3 separate regions of the Homo sapiens genome follow, and all the other regions are linked to region 2. Evidence: fine-mapped expression QTL. A gene starts in region 2. Each other region holds a variant in brackets. All regions are shown on one strand. Distances are between the middles of the regions.

Region 1 (2,760 bases), 170 kb after region 2:
TAAGCAATTCTTCAGTGGACACCAACTAGGTGTCCTATAATTTAATTCAATGTGACACTATCTACCTGGAAATGGTGTCAGACCCCACAGGTTAAGGGCTCAGTCTCACAATGCTTCCCCAACTTTAGACACCAATTGCAAGGTTAGTACATTGTCGCCTGTGCTTCTGACTAACCGTCTATAAATCGGGGGTCCTACTACTCCCTCCATGGGTTTAATTTGCTAGCATGGCTCACAGCACTCAGGGAAACACACTTACTTATGTTCACCAGTTTGTTATAAAGGATATTACACAGGATACAGATAAACAGCTGAGGAAGAGATGGATACCGTGAGTTATGGGGGTGCACAACTTCCACCCCGTCTCTGGGGCTCCACCCTCCCAGTACCTCCCTGTATTCAGCCACTGGAAACTCACCAAATCTTGTTGTTCAAGTTTTTGTGAAGCTTGATTTCTATTTGCCCCCCACCAACCCACCAGCTATCAGTAGGTGGGGCTGACAGCTCCAACCTTCTAATCCTCTAATCACCTTGTCTTTCTGTTGACTGGCTCCATACAGAGACTATCTAGGGGTGTCACCCTACGTAATCTCTTTACCATAAACTCAGAAAGTGATCAAGTGGCTTCATTATAAATAACAAAAATAGTCCTATCACTCAGAAGATTCCAGGGGTTTTAGGAACCCCATGTCAGGAACTGGGAACAAAGACCAAACATATTTCGTATAATACCCCAATGACCATTACCAATTGTCATAGCCATCCAAGGATACAGATGTATTTCATAAATAGTCCTCTTAGTGTGGCTTAGGGATAAAAGTTTGTAGACACCTGCTCCAAACTTTGAACATTGAATTTAAGGTTGGCCAACCTCAGGCACTCTGGTGTGTTATTTATAAATAATAATTCTTCACCCCCCTCGTCCTCTTATCTGTCATATGAAGAGCCCATGGGAACCCTTAGCATCAGGAATCCAACTAATTTCCATTTGATGGGAGGATACAGCTGGACTTCCTACCCCCATACTGACATTCCTACTTGGCAGAGGCGTGACACTACCCTTATTTAGGATTCAAGAAACTTGCTATTTAAGATTTAGGAAAAATTCCTTTCTTCCAGGGACATTTCTCTTGAACATGTTTTGTTTCACATGTAATTTAGTGGTCACCTAGGGGCCAAAGAAAAACAGAGACTTTTGTCTATTTGTTTATTTCTTAAGGCTATCATGAAAGAAAATCCACGAATAACTTGAGCTGTCAATGGAAACCTTTTTTTAGGACTAGATCTCTCCTTCACATTTAGGTAGTGACTGGGACATTTATGGAAGAAAAATAAATAATAATAATAATTATTATGATAGCTTATCATTGTTCAGCCTTTGTTCTGTGCCAAAGATACAGATGATCTCATCTCATTCTTACA[A/G]CAACCATGTGAAATTGGTGCTATGATTAATTTCAGTTTCACAGAAACTGAGGCCAGTGAGGTTAAGAAACTTCCTAAAATCACACGCAGCTAGTTAGTGTTGCAAAATCTGAACCCAAGCAATATGTCTCAGTAGCATGTGCCCTCTAGTATATATGTGTATATATATGTATAGGATAAAAGGATTCATACTTTTGTAGCAGGTATAAATCTTAGTCTATAAACTCAGATGCTTTATTTTCCATAAATCAATGTAATATCCTCTCTAAGCCCTTTTCCCACTGGGCTGGAGGAAATAAAAGCTTGACCATTCTTGAGGTTTCTCTATCACCATCTTCAGCAGATTTGAGCAGGGCTTGGGGATCTGCCTGACATGTCAAGATATTGGATAGACTAGGCCCCTCTGTTTGATGCCTGTTGAGAGGCACATTGTCCCTGGCCACGTGATAATCTCTGTTCTGTGGGCTTCTGTACCAAGCTTGGGACCAAGAGTCTTGGGGCACTTCCCCAGGTGTATCACACACTCACCTTCCCTGAGGTCCCGCCATGGCCTCAGGGAGCAGGAGCAGATCCTCATACTCTTGGACTAGGGAATTTTTTTTTCTTTTTTTTTTTTTTTTGAGACAGTCTCATTCTGTTGCCCAGGCTGGAGTGCAGTGGCGCAATCTCGACTCACTGCAACCTCCACCTCCCAAGTTCAAGTGATCCTCCTACCTGAGCCTCCAGAGTAGCTGAGCCTCCAGAGTAGCTGGGAGTACAGGCATGCGCCACCACGCCTGGCTAACTTTTGTATTTTTAATAGTGACGGGGATTCACCATGTTGGCCAGGCTAGTCTTGAACTACTGACCTGAGGTGATTCACCTGCCTTGGCCTCCCAAATTTCTGGGATTACAGGCGTGAGCCACTGTGTCTGGCCTGGACTAGGGAAATCTTAATTGCTCTGAGAAAATGCAATCTCCTCTTCTTTCCTCCCTCCCTCCTTCTCTGTCTTTTACTCTCTCTTCTCTCCCCGTGAGAGAGCTGCACTTTGCACTCTTTCTTAAGCCACCGATCTTCTCAATGGACTCAGAATTTTGACAGCTTTTACAGTAGGGAACCCTACCACAGCACGGACCTTGATACCTCTTTGAACAGGCGAAGGTCAAGGCAAAACACAGAGTGAAAGCTTCAATAAATATTTCAAAACACACTCTTGCCACATCACCTTTCGCTTATTTTTACAATATGCTGCACGCTTACTCACTCTCACACTCACAAACATAACTGCACAAACATCATTTCCCATTCTTTTGATGTTTAAATACTTTCCTTCTCCTATCAGATGAAGTTTATATTAT
Region 2 (2,760 bases):
TGAGCTCTTTCAGTTGGACGAGAATGCTATTTCATTCCCTGCCAGAGTATAGAAAGATGCTACCAGCTCAGGTTCATTAATAAATTGAATTCTACATTCATAATTTTTTGTGTCTTGCTTTCCTGCCAGATTATAGAAAAATGCCATCAACTTGGGCTCATTAATAAGCTGAATTCCATGTTCATAATTTTTTTTTTTGCATGTGTTTTGCTTTAAGCATCTCTTAAAATACTGCTTGGTAGCTGCTGAGGGAAATCCATTGCTAAAATCACAAAACCTTGAAAAAGCATATTAGAGAGATTAACTTCCATCATAAAGATGTGATTTAAATTCCTGTTGGTATGAGGCCCTCCACTTGCGGTCTCTTATTAAAACAATATACCACAGTAAGTAGTGGATGTTCTTTTCTTCTAATTACTGTGATTGAAATCTAAGCCAGACAAAAGTAAATATTTGATCATTAGTTAATAACAATTGCTGACGACTTACTGTAAAGATAATTGCATACCCTTGCCTGCACTTACTTTACAGTGTGAAGTCAAACATGCCTACAACCAGATCCCATTTTAAAACACATTATTTAGGTTACATGGTACTGTTTAGACCCCAGTATAGTTTTTCATTTACTTAACAGTGAGTGATTTTAAAAGCTAAGTGGAAGCTGCAACTAGCTTAGGGATTTTCAGATATCCTGGTGCCTTACACTGTATATGTCAGATTCCTGTATTGATACTATGTAACTTTCAGTCATACTCCAGACAGATTACGGAAGGTGTACAAAGGCGGGGGAGGGAGTTTCATCAACCCACAAACCGATATCTCTGGCCGTCACCCACCAGAGGAAACGGCTTAGGGGAGCAGCAAAGGAACCAGGAAGTAAGATCTCCTGGTAAAGTGTTCATTAACTTTCAACAGCCATCAGATTTTTGAAAGGGAGTCTCTTCTAATTGCCTTTGGGAGGAAACATTATTAAGATAATTGGCATGCTGATCTGGGAAGGTAGACAGCTCTGTCTTGTAACAGAGGTAAGGAAAAGCCCCACAGCCCAAGGATCAACGTCAGGAGGGAGCCCAAAGACCTGAAATCCTCCTGCTCTAAACCGCCTGATCTCATTTCTTCTTCTCTCCTCCCAGATAAAAGTTTCCTTCGCCCGGGAGTCGGTTGTTCCCGGCTGATCCCGGGAAGCCCCGCCTGAGCCCCGGTCCGGGGCGGGCAGCTGGGAGCCGGGGCGCCGCTGTCACCCGCGCCTCTGCCTGTCACTTACCGTTGCGAAAAGCGCCGGCCGGGGCGAGGACGAGGGCGAGCACGGCGCAGAGGAGCGGCAGCCCCCTCTCCATTCTCCCTTCTCCGGGTCCGCAGGCAGACGCGGGAGAACGAGGACGTGGGGGGAAATGCAGCAAAGAGGAGAATCTAAGCGATCCGAAGAGCCCCAACTCCGCCTAGAGCTGTACAATCCTCAGCCCGTCTTGGAGAAAAGAAAGCAGCGAGGCAATGCCTGGATCCGAGAGGAACGCTTCTCTTTTTGTGTCTCAAGTCGCCTGCATCCTGTCATTTAGCTCCGGCTTCCTCTCCCTTTTCCCACACTTGTTCCTCTTCCAGGAGCCACTGCCCGGGCCATGTCTCAAAAAAAAAAAAAAAAAAAAAAAAGGCCGGGGGGGGGCTGTGGGTGGGAGGGGGAGGAGGGAGGTAGGGCAACACACACCAAAGCCAATTTCCAGGAAGAAAAAAAAAAAATCCGGCTTGTTTCTGGACCCGTTGGAGCCGCGGAGCTGGCGCCCAGGGGAGGTCCGGGTGTCTGCGGGAAGGAGGGGAACGAGCAATGAAAAGATGAGCGGGAGACAGAGGAGTTTCACCAACTGCACCCCCGCCTCCCCTCCTGCGGCCTCCCCCCACTCCGGAGCCCTTCCCTCGCTTCCTCCCGCCCCTCTCCCCGCTTGGGCTCGCCTGTAATTGCCTGACAGGAGACTGGGAGGAACAACTTTCCCTCCGAGTGCTCTCCCCGTCCGTCTGTCTGTCTTTCCCAGAGACCCTGCAGGGATCTCCGCGGGAAGGAAGGCGCTGGGAGTCTGCGCCCCGGTCGCGTGGGTGCGGGCGTCGGAGGAAGGGGCGCGGAGGTCAGTGCCAGCCGCAGGGTCTGGCCAGCCCACCTCGCGTGCTCGCTCTGCACCCCTAGAGGGAGAGCTGGGCAGCTCCTGCAGGCGCAGATCCCGCCGCCGCGCAGTGCGGAGCGCCCGGGAGGTGGCGGCTGCTTCTCGCAACTTCAAATCCCGGGGCCCGCGCCCTCGGCGGCGAGGAACGCAGGGTCACCCCCTGCCACTCCTCATCGCGCCATCCTGAGACCTGTGGCGGGGAGCAGCGGGGCACCCCTGGACGCCCCTGCCCAGAGCTGGAGGGCGAGGAGGGGAAAGCCGGGCTGGAGTGGGAGCCGCACCGCGAAGCCGGGCGAGGGGCAGCAGTGTCGCTGTGGTGTGAAGCGAAGACAGACCGCCTGGGCGGGCGAGGCCGGGCTGCAGCCCCACGCGGCCTCCCTGGCCCGCATCAGGGCGCGCGGCTGGGTGCCCTCTGCGCGCCGCGGAGGCTTCATTGTTTCCCGAGATTTGGTGCCCGTTCCTCTGGGGCAGAGGGAACACCGGAGGGTGGGAGGTGCTGCGCCTTCCAAGCAGGGGGGCAATCGCCGCCCGACCCCGCCCAACCTTGTCTGGGAGCCCAGGTGCTAGGGAGGGGTGTGGAAATCAGGGGTCGGGCGGCCCCCGTTTCTCT
Region 3 (2,760 bases), 540 kb after region 2:
CTACACATCTTTCCTAAGCTCAGCTGCTTTTTCAGAATTTCCAGGGAAGCCTTTGAAACTACATATTCCAGGATCTCTCTCTGGATCTTTTGAAATTAGAATCTCTAAGAGAGGACTGCACATTTATGAGTTTCCCCAGGCAAAACAGAAGTGGTGGTCTGATCTGGGCTGTGGGAGGAGAAGAAATATCAAGGATGTATAGGAGCCTGGAGGTGAGGACAAGCCTGGAGGTGAGGAAGAACTGGAGGACAGTTGGATGTGACTGTGCCTGAGAGAACAGTGTGGGGACAGTCAGCTGTGGAGAGAAGGGCAGCCACGTCATGAGGGCCTGTGCACAGTGGAGAGGAGCTTGGCCTTCCTCTAAGGACAATGTTGTTGGATGAATGGGAGATGGCAGCTGGAAGGAACTGCTATCATGGGGGCTGTGGAGATAGCCGTGAGAATACAGGGGAGCCACACCAGAACCAAGTCCTTCTCCAGGGGTTTTAAACAGTCAGGGGGACTGGCATGGTGGCTCATGCTTATAATCCCAGCACTTTGGAAGACAGAGGTGGGAGGATCGCTTGAGCCCAGGAGGTGGAGGCTAGAGTGAGCCGTGATCACACCACTGCACTCCAGCCTGGGAGGGAGACCCTGTCTCAAAAATTAAATAAAATATAAAATTAAAATAAAATAAAATAAAATAAAATAAAAACCAAGAATCAGTTCCTTCGCTCTTGTTCTATTATTTACCACCTTGCCCCCTTCCCCTTTCTCTATATGCCTTCCCATGGGGAAAGCAAATGAGGTGGAAATATACATGTTGATGAGGTGGAAATATACATGTTGTTTACAACCAGCTGGTATACCCTTGCTCTTTCACTTGAATTAGCAGAAACGTACACAAATTCATGAAAGGAGAAAGGATGCAGCCCTAAGCCCTTTCGACCACCCCTCTGGCAGGCTGCCTTGTATTACTTCTTTCTCCACCAACACTGCTTTTGATGCTCATTTTAGCCGCATTTGCTTGTCAACCACTATCATGGTTTGTTTGCGCCCTCTCCCTCTGATGATGGGGCTGGACCCATGCCCCTGAGACACATGGTAGGATGGTATGCACACTGTCCACCCTGTCATATGACCATATCCTCAGATTACAAATCTCCTTCCTGGCTTCATTAGGGAGTCCTAATGTTGTAATGTAAGAATCTGAGTGGACTGGGTGCAACAATAAAGAAGGGATACATAACAGAGGAAAGGTAATCTTTCATCTTCATGTTCCAGGCAGCCCCACCCCTCCCCCTAAGGTGCACTGATGCTAGCTTGACTAGTGAAACTGGAAATCAGGAAGAGATGTCAGTAGGAAGATTTAGTAAAAACATTTAGCAGTAAGGTCAAGAGATAGATCTTTGAAAACCACAAATTTCTCCCCAAGCCTCTGTTTAAGTGAGTACACTTTCACTAATAAGAAGTGAGGTTTCCTGAAGCAGAGGAAGTAGATAAGCAAGAGAAAACCAACTCCTTGATAACAACAGTTAATA[C/G]CTTTACCAGTAACCACATATAAAATAAACTGTGCTGGGGGACAAATTAAAGACATCCCCTTCTTCCACCAGGTTTTCAAACAGGGACTTTTATTGAAAGAATCACCCAGCCCGGAGAATGTCAAGTTAAATGTAACTACAGATATTGGCCAACAGGTCACTCCAATCCTTACACAGCTTCTTGTAGCTCTATTTCTGGGGTTTCTAAGGGTGAGGGGGAAAGTAATTAAAGAATGGCTAAGCTTGGCTGGGTGCAGTGGCTTACACCTGTAATCCCAGCACCCAAGGTGAGGAATTCGAGACCAGCCTGGCCAACATGGTGAAACCCCATCTCTACTAAAAATACAAAAAATTAGCCGGGCATGGTGGTGGGCACCTATAATCCCAGCTACTCCGGGAGGCTGAGGCAGGAGAATAGCTTGAACCCAGGAGGCGGAGGTTGCAGTGAGCTGAGATCACACCACTGCACTCCAGCCTGGGCAACAAGAGCAAAACTCCATTTCAAAAAAAGAAAAGAAAGAAAGAAAGAAGAAAGAATGGCTAAGCTAAAACTTTGTTTTCTACTTTGGATTCAATCCTAACTATTTGAACCCCAAATCAAAAGATGGAGAGTCTGGGAGCTTTGGTTTCCCCTACTCAAAAGTATTTTCTCTTAAAGCTAGGCTAATAGGTTGGAAAGAGGACTCACAGCTTGAAAACACCTAATAAAGGTCATTTTGAAATGCAGACATTAATGTTGGCGAAAGAGAGCTTTCATACAACAAATCATACTAGGGAGTGTACAGCAGTGTCTTTCCATTGGATTCTTGTTTTAGAGGCAAAAAAATCCTCCCATATGAATTGAGTTATTATTCTAATGTTGTAGTTTAAATCTGTTAAATAAAGCCAAGATTCAGATCAAAGGTAAAGCAATTTAAAATAAAAAACCTAAGAGCTGAGCTCCTTAACTGAGCTCTGCTAAAACAGAGAAAACTTAACAAAATAAGAGTATCACCATCTTGAGCTATTCTTCCCAGGAGACGGAAAGAAAAATGGAGCAATAAACAGAAGCAGAGAAATGCAGGGGAGATAAGGAAGCCAGAGTATTCTGTTATCCATGGGCAGGTGGCTTGTCTGTGTCTCGCTCTTTAACTGAACCCAAATTCTGAATGTGTAAGTGAGGTAGAATAATAAGTCTTTCCTTCGGTGTTTGATATAGTCTGAAGCTTGTGAATACGGATTCAGAAACATCTGTCTTCCA

What was found.
Region 1: its variant is fine-mapped to the expression of NRP1 in whole blood (TOPMed, PIP 0.99).
Region 3: its variant is fine-mapped to the expression of NRP1 in whole blood (TOPMed, PIP above 0.99).

Annotation. Positions count from the first base shown.
Region 1 is chr10:33,505,563-33,508,322 of GRCh38, forward strand. No RefSeq gene overlaps it. Among named protein-coding and RNA genes, the nearest start is that of LINC02628, 94 kb to the right of the region's middle. The variant A/G (reference allele first, on the strand shown) is at 1,423.
Region 2 is chr10:33,333,046-33,335,805 of GRCh38, forward strand. NRP1 (neuropilin 1) reads right to left here and starts at 1,622. Exons shown (of 17, transcript NM_003873.7): 1 at 1,265-1,622. The coding sequence starts at 1,337.
Region 3 is chr10:33,870,316-33,873,075 of GRCh38, forward strand. No RefSeq gene overlaps it. Among named protein-coding and RNA genes, the nearest start is that of LINC02629, 32 kb to the right of the region's middle. The variant C/G (reference allele first, on the strand shown) is at 1,521.